Regions from separate parts of the Homo sapiens genome. Here regions 1 and 2 are each reported to be linked to region 3. The links are microRNA targets in miRTarBase. Many come from high-throughput screens and were not tested one by one. Region 3 holds a microRNA gene; each other region holds the end of a gene's coding sequence.
The links. The annotated mature microRNA hsa-miR-548au-3p reads UGGCAGUUACUUUUGCACCAG and lies in region 3 at 1,854-1,874, opposite strand. An mRNA with a match to its seed (bases 2 to 7 or 8) in the 3' UTR can be bound and repressed. Matches are read on the target gene's strand: a 7mer-m8 pairs with bases 2 to 8, a 7mer-A1 pairs with bases 2 to 7 and ends in A, and an 8mer does both.

Region 1 (3,070 bases), not on the chromosome of region 3:
GATTTCTCAAGCTATATATCTAAGTCCAATTTCTCCCCTAAGCCTTTCCATTTTTTACAGATGTGAAGCCAAACTACTTGAAGGGTCTTTCTCATGTACTTAACAGGCTGCCCAAGCCTGTACTCTTGCCAGAGCTGCCCACGGTAAGTCCCACAGGCAGAGCTTCTAAGCAAAGGACAAAGCTATTCTTCCCCAGATGGGGCTAGAAAGGGGAGGGAACAAGAACCAGGATCTTCATGATGTGGCCATCCCCTACCTTGCCCATTGCCCCTTAGCTTCTTTCCTTGCTGCTGGAGGCCCTGTCCTGCCCTGACTGTGTGGTGCAGCTCTCCACCCTCAGCTGCCTTCAGCCTCTTCTACTGGAAGCACCCCAAGTCATGAGTCTTCACGTGGACACCCTCGTCACCAAGTTTCTGAACCTCAGCTCTAGCCCTTCCATGGTGCGTTGAGCCCCAGCAACTCTTAGGCACCAGCATCTCTCCCTGGGCATGCTCTCACCTCCTTGTGGTTGTGTTCCAGGCTGTCCGGATCGCCGCACTGCAGTGCATGCATGCTCTCACTCGCCTGCCCACCCCTGTGGTAAGTACCTCAGGTGTCCTTCCCTGGCCTGGGAACATCTCAAGAGACACATAAGTACCTTTTTGCCTTAGTCAGGTGGGCTTGGCCACCCTGGTGTGTAATTGAGATCTGAATTACAAGGTACAGATCTTGTAATTCTGGGCCCAAGGATTCTTTTCCTTGGGCCCAGAAGGTAACAGAAAGGCCATCCTGCCACTTAACATCCCTTGGAATCACTAAAGATGTTTTGCTTTCCTCAGAATATTAGTTGTACAGAATCAAAAAAGCGGTACTTTCAGTTGCCTTGGATGAGCAAGGTTGATTATATCCTCTGACTCCACAGCTGCTGCCGTACAAACCACAGGTGATTCGGGCCTTAGCCAAACCCCTGGATGACAAGAAGAGACTGGTGCGCAAGGAAGCAGTGTCAGCCAGAGGGGAGTGGTGAGTTTCTAGGTCGTGGGGAGAGATGGGACCAAGATGAGCCTCATCACTAATGCTGCCAACTTTCTTTTTGCCTACAGGTTTCTGTTGGGGAGCCCTGGCAGCTGAGCCCTCAGTCCTGGCCTAGACTGTTCTGACAATCTAACCTGGGATTACTAACTGTTGAGCCATCTTCCCCAAAGCAGGGAAACCACTGGTCTCTGACTGCCTTTCCCACAGACACAGCACAAATGCTAGGCCTCTGTTGCATGGCTGTACAAAGAACATAAGAGTCCATATTTCTAGTGGATTTGTAAAATAAGTGTGTGTGAGACACTTGCGTTTGAAGAAAGATCTAGGGTCCTGGGTCTCTTGCATTTATATGTCAGAAAAGGGGCGATATGCTGCTGAGGGGTGAGTGCATATGAGTGTGGCCCTGAGGACCAGGGCTGGCAGATGTTGTCTACCTGCTGAAGAATAAAGATTTCTTTTGGTAATGGGGCTGTCAGATATTTCCCCCACCCCACATATGCCTCATATAACCAGAGGCATCACTGGAATAACAATGACAGGGATTGGCCAAAAATTTTTCAGGGTAACCAGGACAGTAGCACATGCCTGTAACCCCAACACTTCAGGAGGCTGAGGCAGGCGGATCACTTGAGGCTAGGAGTTTGAGACTAGCCCTGGCAGTATAGCAAGAACCCATCTCTACAAATAATTAAAAAAAAAAAAAAATTAAGCTGGGCATGGTGGCTGACGCCTGTAATCCCAGCATTTTGGGAGGCCGAGGCGCATGGATCAGTGGAGGTCAGGAGTTCAAGACCAGACTGGCCAACATGGTGAAACCCCATCTCCACTAAAAATACAAAAATTAGCCAGGTGTGGTGGCATACGCCTTTAATCACAGCTACTTGGGAGGCTGAGACACAAGAATCACTTGAGCCGGGCGCGGTGGCTCACGCCTGTAAAGCTTGTAATCCCAGCACTTTGGGAGGCCGAGGCGGATGGATCACAAGGTCATGACATCGAGACCTCCTGGCTAACACAGTGAAACCCCGTCTCTACTAAAAATACAAAAATTAGCCGGGTGTGGTGGCGGGCGCCTGTAGTCCCAGCTACTCGGGAGGCTGAGGCAGGAGAATGGCGTGAACCCGGGAGGCGGAGCTTGCAGTGAGCCGAGATCACACCACTGCACTCCAGCCTGGGTGATATAGAGCGAGACTCCGTCTCAAAAAAAAAAAAAAAAAAAAATCACTTGAAACTGGGAGGCGGAGGTTGCAGTGAGTCAAGATCGCGCCACTGCATTACAGCCTGAGAGACAGAGTGAGACTCCATCTCCAAAAAAAAAAAAAATGTAGGAAGCATGACCAGAACACCTACTCACTAGGTCTTGACCCTGACTTTCCCCTTCCCTGCCCTATCGTGAGGCAGAGAGTGAGAAGCTACATATCTTTAAAAATCGAATACCTTTATTTGTGCTCCCTTAAGCAGCATGTGAGAAGTGGCAGTGACCTCAGCAGCAGGCCTGGTATCTTTGCCCTGTTGAGAAGCCAAGATCTCAGCTGTACTAGTCAGGTGTTTTTTCAGACAGCAAGTAGAAGAGGTGGTGGCCAACTCCAGTGCTGTATCCTGGAGGAGGTCCGGGTCAGCACTGGGCAAGGTAGGTAGCTAGCTGCCTGACCCCTAGTCTGGGGTTGGAACTTCTGTTTGCCTGAGTAAAGGGATGTCAGTCCTAAGATTTCTCCACATTGTGTCTTTCTTCTGCAGTGGTAAAAAGGCTGGTCCTTGAATTGTCCTGCATGGTACCCTAAGGCAGGCCCACTGGCTCTTTTTGATCAAGGATTCTGAGAAAAGCTGCCCTTGGAGGCCCTTGAAATAACATAGGGAGCAGAATGAGTGCTCGAGTCGTGGCTGACACAGTCCAGCTCACACTGCCATCACAGAGGCTGAGTGAGCAGTCACCCAGGGAGGGGGCTCCCAGCTCATTCCATTCCCATGGGGCAAGTGACTAGAAGGTAAGAGCACCCGAGTAAGCCAGTGCCTAGAAGAGAAGAGAGAAATGTCTCTGAGTTCAAGAATTCTTGGT
Region 2 (3,070 bases), not on the chromosome of region 3:
ATATGTGGCTGAAGTGCGTTTCTCTGAAGCGCAATGACTTTCAGGAAGCCTGCGTCTTCAATGAGGAGATCTATTGTATCTGTGATATCCCAGTCATGAAGGTCTACAACCCAGTTAGGGCAGAATGGAGGCAAATGAATAATATTCCCTTGGTCTCAGAGACCAACAACTACAGAATTATCAAGCATGGCCAAAAATTGTTGCTCATCACCTCTCGCACCCCACAGTGGAAAAAGAACCGGGTGACTGTGTATGAATATGATATTAGGGGAGACCAATGGATTAATATAGGTACCACATTAGGCCTCTTGCAGTTTGATTCTAACTTTTTTTGCCTCTCTGCTCGTGTTTATCCTTCCTGCCTTGAACCTGGTCAGAGTTTCCTCACTGAAGAAGAAGAAATACCAAGTGAGTCTAGCACTGAATGGGACTTAGGTGGATTCAGTGAGCCAGACTCTGAGTCAGGAAGTTCAAGTTCTCTTTCTGATGATGATTTTTGGGTGCGTGTAGCGCCTCAGTGAAATGCACAGGATCAACAGGGTTTGTTGTAACTAGATTGAAACACTAAGTTGTTTTTACTGTTTTGGAAAATATCTTAAATATCCTTTTTGTTCCTAAAGGAGAGGAAAAGTTGATTAACTTCTGGTTTGGTTTAGAAAAAGTAATGTTTGAAATACGAAGGTAATTTAATGTTACAAATTTTAACACTCAAATCAACCTTTTAATAATTTTCTGTGCTAAGGGTCCAGTATTTATTTGATTATTTAGTATGTTTATGTTTCATGACACTAATTTAGTCTTTTGATACATTTTACATTCTGTTTACTGCCACAAGCACTGTGGCAATAACTTTTGAATTTTAATTTTTATAATAGAAAAATGATTAGGAATTGCTAGATAGTGTTTTGAAAGCATATCTTTTTCTTCAGAACAATGTAGACTTCCAAAATGGTTAACCTAAGGGGTCTTTACAAAATGTGTTATAAGTTAAACATAATTTGGGAAGTTTTACTTTTGTTTTCTTCTATGAAGAAAAAAATGCAGGCTGGGCGCGGTGGCTCACGCCTGTAATCCTAGCACTTTGGGAGGCCGAGGCAGGTGGATCACCTGAGGTCAGTTCAAGACCAGCCTGGCCAACATGGTGAAACCCCGTCTCTACTAAAAATACAAAAATTAGCTGGGCGTGGTGGCATGCGCCTGTAATCCCAGCTACCCAGGAGGCTGAGGCAGGAGAATTGCTGAAACCCGGGAGTCAGAGGCTGCAGAGAGCCGAGACTGGGCCACTGCACTCCAGCCTGGATGACAGAGTGAGACTCCGTCTCAAAAAAAAAAAAAAAAAAAAAAGGAAAAAAAAAAAAGAAAAAAAACCATATGTGTATTAGGGTGACTGAGTGGTGACTTCATTTATAATAATACAGAGAATAGCTATAAGCTCATTGACAGTAAAAACAACAAACCAGGATTCTACTGTTTGAAAAGAAGTTTCGTTTTAATTTTGGAATTTAGAATGTGTATTTGCAAAGTCACCAATTTTCATCTAAAAGGTTATATTCTAGTTGTGTCACCAAATCATCAAAAAACCTTAAAAAAGAAGTAACTTGCTTTGTAGGTTTGTATTGTTGATCTAAACCTGATACATGCTTCATTTAATCAGGAATAATCCTTTTTTTTCTGCTGGACATGTATAAATTTCACTGGATTGTATAAATTTTTATCTATTGCCTTAAACATTTACATGATTCTCAATATGTTTTAGCTGTACAGTTTTGGTGTTCATCTTAGAGGATTCTTCAGCAGAAGTGATATTTCTTTACTGTTTTGTGAGGTAATACTGATTTTGAAAATATATATAAGCTAAAAACAGTATTTCGTTGATATCAGTAGTCATTGTGTTAACTATAAAGTCAAGTGCCAGCAAAGAACTTTAAAACTGTAAAGCTGTGTATAGAACTGTTTTGTGTAGCATGGAAATATTCTGTCAGCTTTTTAAAGTCACTAAATGTTCTTGATTATCAGCTTGAAGGTATTTTTGTATTACAAGTTGACAGTTGCTGGGTGTAGTGGCTCATGCCTGTAATCCTAGCAACTCGGGGCTGAGGTGGGAGGATTGCTTCAGCCCAGGAGTTTGAGACCAGCCTGGGCAACATAGCAAAACCCCATCTCTACAAAAATAAAAAATATGTCTGGGCATGGTGGCCCAAGTCTGAGTCCCAGTTACTTGGGAGGATCACTTGAATGTAGGATCACTTGAGTCTAGGAGTTCGGGGCTGCAGCTATCATCTGCAGCTATAATCATAGCTCACTGCAGCTATGATCATGTCTCAGCACTCCAGCTTTGGCAACAGAACGAGATCCCATCTCTTAGAAAAACAAAGTTGATAGTTAAAGAACATAAGTGGATGATGGCATTTGAGGCCACTAGTGAAAGTATGTTTTCTCTAAAATATTTCTCTAATAGTGATATAAATGGCTATTTTATTATGATGTTTGTATGTGTTTTGTATTTCTCTGTAAACCATGCTCCAGTCTTTGTTTTTCTGTTACCATAATGTAAGAGAAGGTCCTGGAACAGAGACTAAATCCCACGAAACTGACATTGTTAAACACACTAAAACAGAAGTACTTACCTCTTGAAGATTTAATATATAATGGTTGACATGATACATGTACATGATGAATGACCAGATGCTTATGGTCTACATTTTCCTTTATCCTGTTAGTATTACCTTCCTTAATCTTTGTTCATTAACATGCTAATTCCTCTTCAGTGTTTATTTTCTAGTGACAGAATGCTAACATTTCTTACACCCTGGCAGAAGGGAGAGAAATGTGTTTTGGGGTGGGTAACTAAATTTTTGAGTGAAATATCATAAGATGAGAATGGAAAGAGGGAGACACAAAGAGTTATAACAAAAAAACAATGGTTTTTTTAGCCATTTGACTGGCTCTTTAAATAGTCTACAAGACATTCACGTTTAACATCACTTTTAGTGAAATAAAATGTGCCATACTAGTATGTGCTTCAAAAGGGCAAATGTGCTTTAGTGCCCTAAGGCTAAATTTTGGTCAT
Region 3 (3,191 bases):
CGGCAGAAACACTGAGGCATGAAGGTGCAATTTGCCTGACTCTGCCCAGAGACACATGCTCAGCTGCATGCATCAACACCTTCCTGGGAAGCAAGCTCCCTAGGCACACAGGAGGCCAGTGATCATGAAGCCCTCCAGCACCACACAGCCTCTCTTCCTGCTACAAAAAGGAGTAGCACTCGAGCCCTGCCCCTCCCGACTCCCAGTCCTCTGAAGGTTCTGGGTGCTGGCTCTCCCACTAGGATAAACCTGGCCCACCAAGAAGCACACCATATTCAAGAAGGGCAGGTTTTTAGGGCTGAGACATCACAGTACACACCAGCTGGCCAGTGCACACGCATTTCTTCATTCATTCAAGCACTCCTTCATTCCTTCAAGCATCCATGGAGCCTTGATCCCTGGTGCTGAATTTGGGCTAAATGAAAAATGCAGGGGCCCCAATGAAGCTTCAGTCAGCTCCACTCCTCCAGCTGCCATCCAGGTGACATGCAGCTTGCCCTCCACTCGTGGGCACAGGGGGTCCCAATAGAAACAGGGAAACCTCCTCCTAACCCACAGCTGTGCAGAGTATCATGCTGGACTGAGGTCAGCTTCCCAGGACAGCCCCCACTCCATGCGGCCTGCCTCATATGCCACTAGACCCAGCACACAGAAGAGGAAGAGCCAGCTTAACCAGAGAGGCCAAGAGCAGTGGAGCCGGGAGGGCAGTTCGCCCATGAGGACAGACCGTGGGTAAGCCAGCAACTGGGAAATGCCCCATCCTGCTGGTGGCCACAGACATAAGAATTCAAAGACTAGTTATCAAACCTGAAAGAGTACAGTATCACCAGTGCCTGTGAGACAGGAGTAAAACTAACATTAACACAACCCTTATAAATTTGCCCACTCAGGGATTATAGAGAAAATGGATTAACATCAGGATGTTGACTTTTTGTTTCATGAAATCCACCTCAGGAAATCCAGGTCTAGCATCCTCAGGGAAGTTCCATCAAGAGGAAGGCATCTCTGGTTACGCACATATTTACCTGCAAACCAGGTATGTATACACACATATGCCCAGTGGGCGCATGCACAGCCGCACTCATCCTTGTTCACAGAAGATGCAAATCTCGGTCTGTGTATAAAGTGTGTCTGCACATGCAGAGAGGAGCCATGCACAACGCTCAGACATATGTGCAGGCATTCCAGACACAGCTTTGGGCCAATGAGTGGTCACACAATGAAGACAACTAGGAAATATCTTCTGTGACTCCAAATCCTAAATTTCTTCAGGTTTACATTATATTTTCATAAATTCCTTACCGTCATTCCTAAAGTAGATTCAACTGAAAGCGGCTCCTCATATTGTAGCGTCAGGCTTCCCTACTCTCTACCTCCAGGTGAAGAGTATCTGTAAGTATCTGAGCATCCACAGATAATCACACAGCATCCCTAAGTATCTAAGTACATATAAGTAATCATTTAGTGTCTATAATTACCCAAGTATCTGTTAGTAATAATTTGGCATCAGTAGGTACCCAAGTATGTGTAAGTAATTATTTAGTATCTATAAATACCTGAATAGTTATGACTAATCATTTCTCATCTGTATTTGGGTACCTGCAAGTAATCATTTAGCATCTGTAAGTACCCCTTTAAAGATAAGCACCCAAATGCCTGTTAGTAATTATTTAGCATCTATAAGTACCCAAGTATCTGTAAGTATTCCTTTAGTATTTGTAAGTACCTGAGTACCTGCTGGTGATTGGCATCTGTAAGTACCTAAGTAACTATAAGTATTCCTTTAAAGCCTGTGCAGGAAGAATCTCCATTCTTCAAATGAAGATACATAATTCCTTCAGAATGATATTAGGCTGGTGCAAAAGTAACTGCCATTAAAACCAATAGCAAAAACCGCAATTACTTTTGTACCAACCTAATAACATCTTCAGACTGGAACTTAGGCTGGTCTGTGTCCTCAGCCGGTGTGGACTAAGGCTGGTGTCCACTGGGCTCTCCTCAGCGGTCCTATCTTCTGTCAAACCCCCATGTACCTTGCAATCCACATGTTTTAGGCACAAGGTCCCAATGTGCTCTCCCACTCATGCTGTCACTGGGAGCAGTGACTGGGAGCTTAGCTGCCAATCAGCAGGAGGGCAGTGCCAGAGGAAGCTCAGTTCACACAGCCTGTGGGGTCCTCTGCAGGTGTCCACAAGCTGGGATCCCCACTTGCAGTAGACCCTTGGGGTGAGGAAGTACACCCGATGACAGCTGTGACACGCCCTGCTGCTCTGGGAAGTGGTGGCTGCTCCTGGTGCCATGGGAGGCCCATCCCTGACCCAAGAGTCAGGAACCTATCAGCCTGAAGAGGCTGGGAACAGGAGCCGCCCCGACCTGGAATGTTCCCAAAGCAGGGGAGGGGCTGACTGGGCGGGGCCCTTTTCAACTGAAAACTCTTACATGCAGGCTCATGGTCAATGGCCTGTCCACCCACAGGGGCCCTCGGGTAGCTCTGGCCAACACAGGCAGATAGGCTGCAGACTAAGCTAATGTGCATTGTGCATTAATGGAGGGGGGGGGGGTCACATGAGAAGAGGGGGTGTGCCGGAAGGGCAGATATCTCCGGAAGGGTGAGGTGTCCTCACCCACCACAGCTCCTTCAGGGAGGCCTGGGGCCAATTGCTGTGCAGCAGAGAGAGCTACCCAAGCCCCAGTGTCTATAAAACCCACAGTCCATAAAATCTGTAAAACAGGAGGCCAGGCAATATGACCTCTAAACCCTGATGGTCTTACTCCCTTGCTTACTTTATATCTGATTATAAAAGTATTAAGCTCTTGGAAAACAAATTGGAATGTACAGAAAAGTACAAAAGTGGTAGGAAAAACGTAATCTTAACCTTTAACATGTTGGCATATTCCCTCCTAGACCGTCTTCCATTTTAATTGGTTGACACCAGCCATCACATTATGTGTGTAGTGTTTCATTTAATATCATCATAAAGATATCCCCATAGCATTAAAGCCTTGCTGTAAACATCACTGCTGACGACTGCATAATTTCCGATTTACAAGAGGACACTGTCATTTGCCTAGTCATCCCAACTTCATCATTCAACAGTGTAGAATTCTTGATAAATTAAATAAATATCTAAAATATTCATTCTTTATATACTTTTAAATTTGTTATGGTGGATTTTTAACAGATATTACAG

Region 1: miRTarBase lists ZDHHC16 as a target of hsa-miR-548au-3p. Seed matches in the 3' UTR shown: 7mer-A1 at 2,487-2,493.
Region 2: miRTarBase lists KBTBD6 as a target of hsa-miR-548au-3p. Seed matches in the 3' UTR shown: 7mer-A1 at 825-831.

What each region holds. Positions count from the first base shown.
Region 1 is chr10:97,456,732-97,459,801 of GRCh38, reverse strand. It overlaps ZDHHC16 (zDHHC palmitoyltransferase 16), which reads right to left. Exons shown (of 12, transcript NM_198046.3): 12 at 2,432-3,025. The coding sequence ends at 2,911. MMS19 (MMS19 cytosolic iron-sulfur assembly component) reads left to right here. Exons shown (of 31, transcript NM_022362.5): 27 at 61-143; 28 at 276-440; 29 at 520-579; 30 at 902-1,002; 31 at 1,083-1,478. The coding sequence ends at 1,110. Among named protein-coding and RNA genes, the nearest start is that of ZDHHC16, 12 kb to the right of the region's middle.
Region 2 is chr13:41,127,938-41,131,007 of GRCh38, reverse strand. KBTBD6 (kelch repeat and BTB domain containing 6) reads left to right here. Exons shown (of 1, transcript NM_152903.5): 1 at 1-3,070. The coding sequence ends at 521. Among named protein-coding and RNA genes, the nearest start is that of KBTBD6, 3.3 kb to the left of the region's middle.
Region 3 is chr9:93,593,557-93,596,747 of GRCh38, reverse strand. It overlaps MIR548AU (microRNA 548au), which reads right to left and starts at 1,907; the gene lies at 1,854-1,907. All of the region lies in intron 1 of PHF2 (PHD finger protein 2), which reads right to left.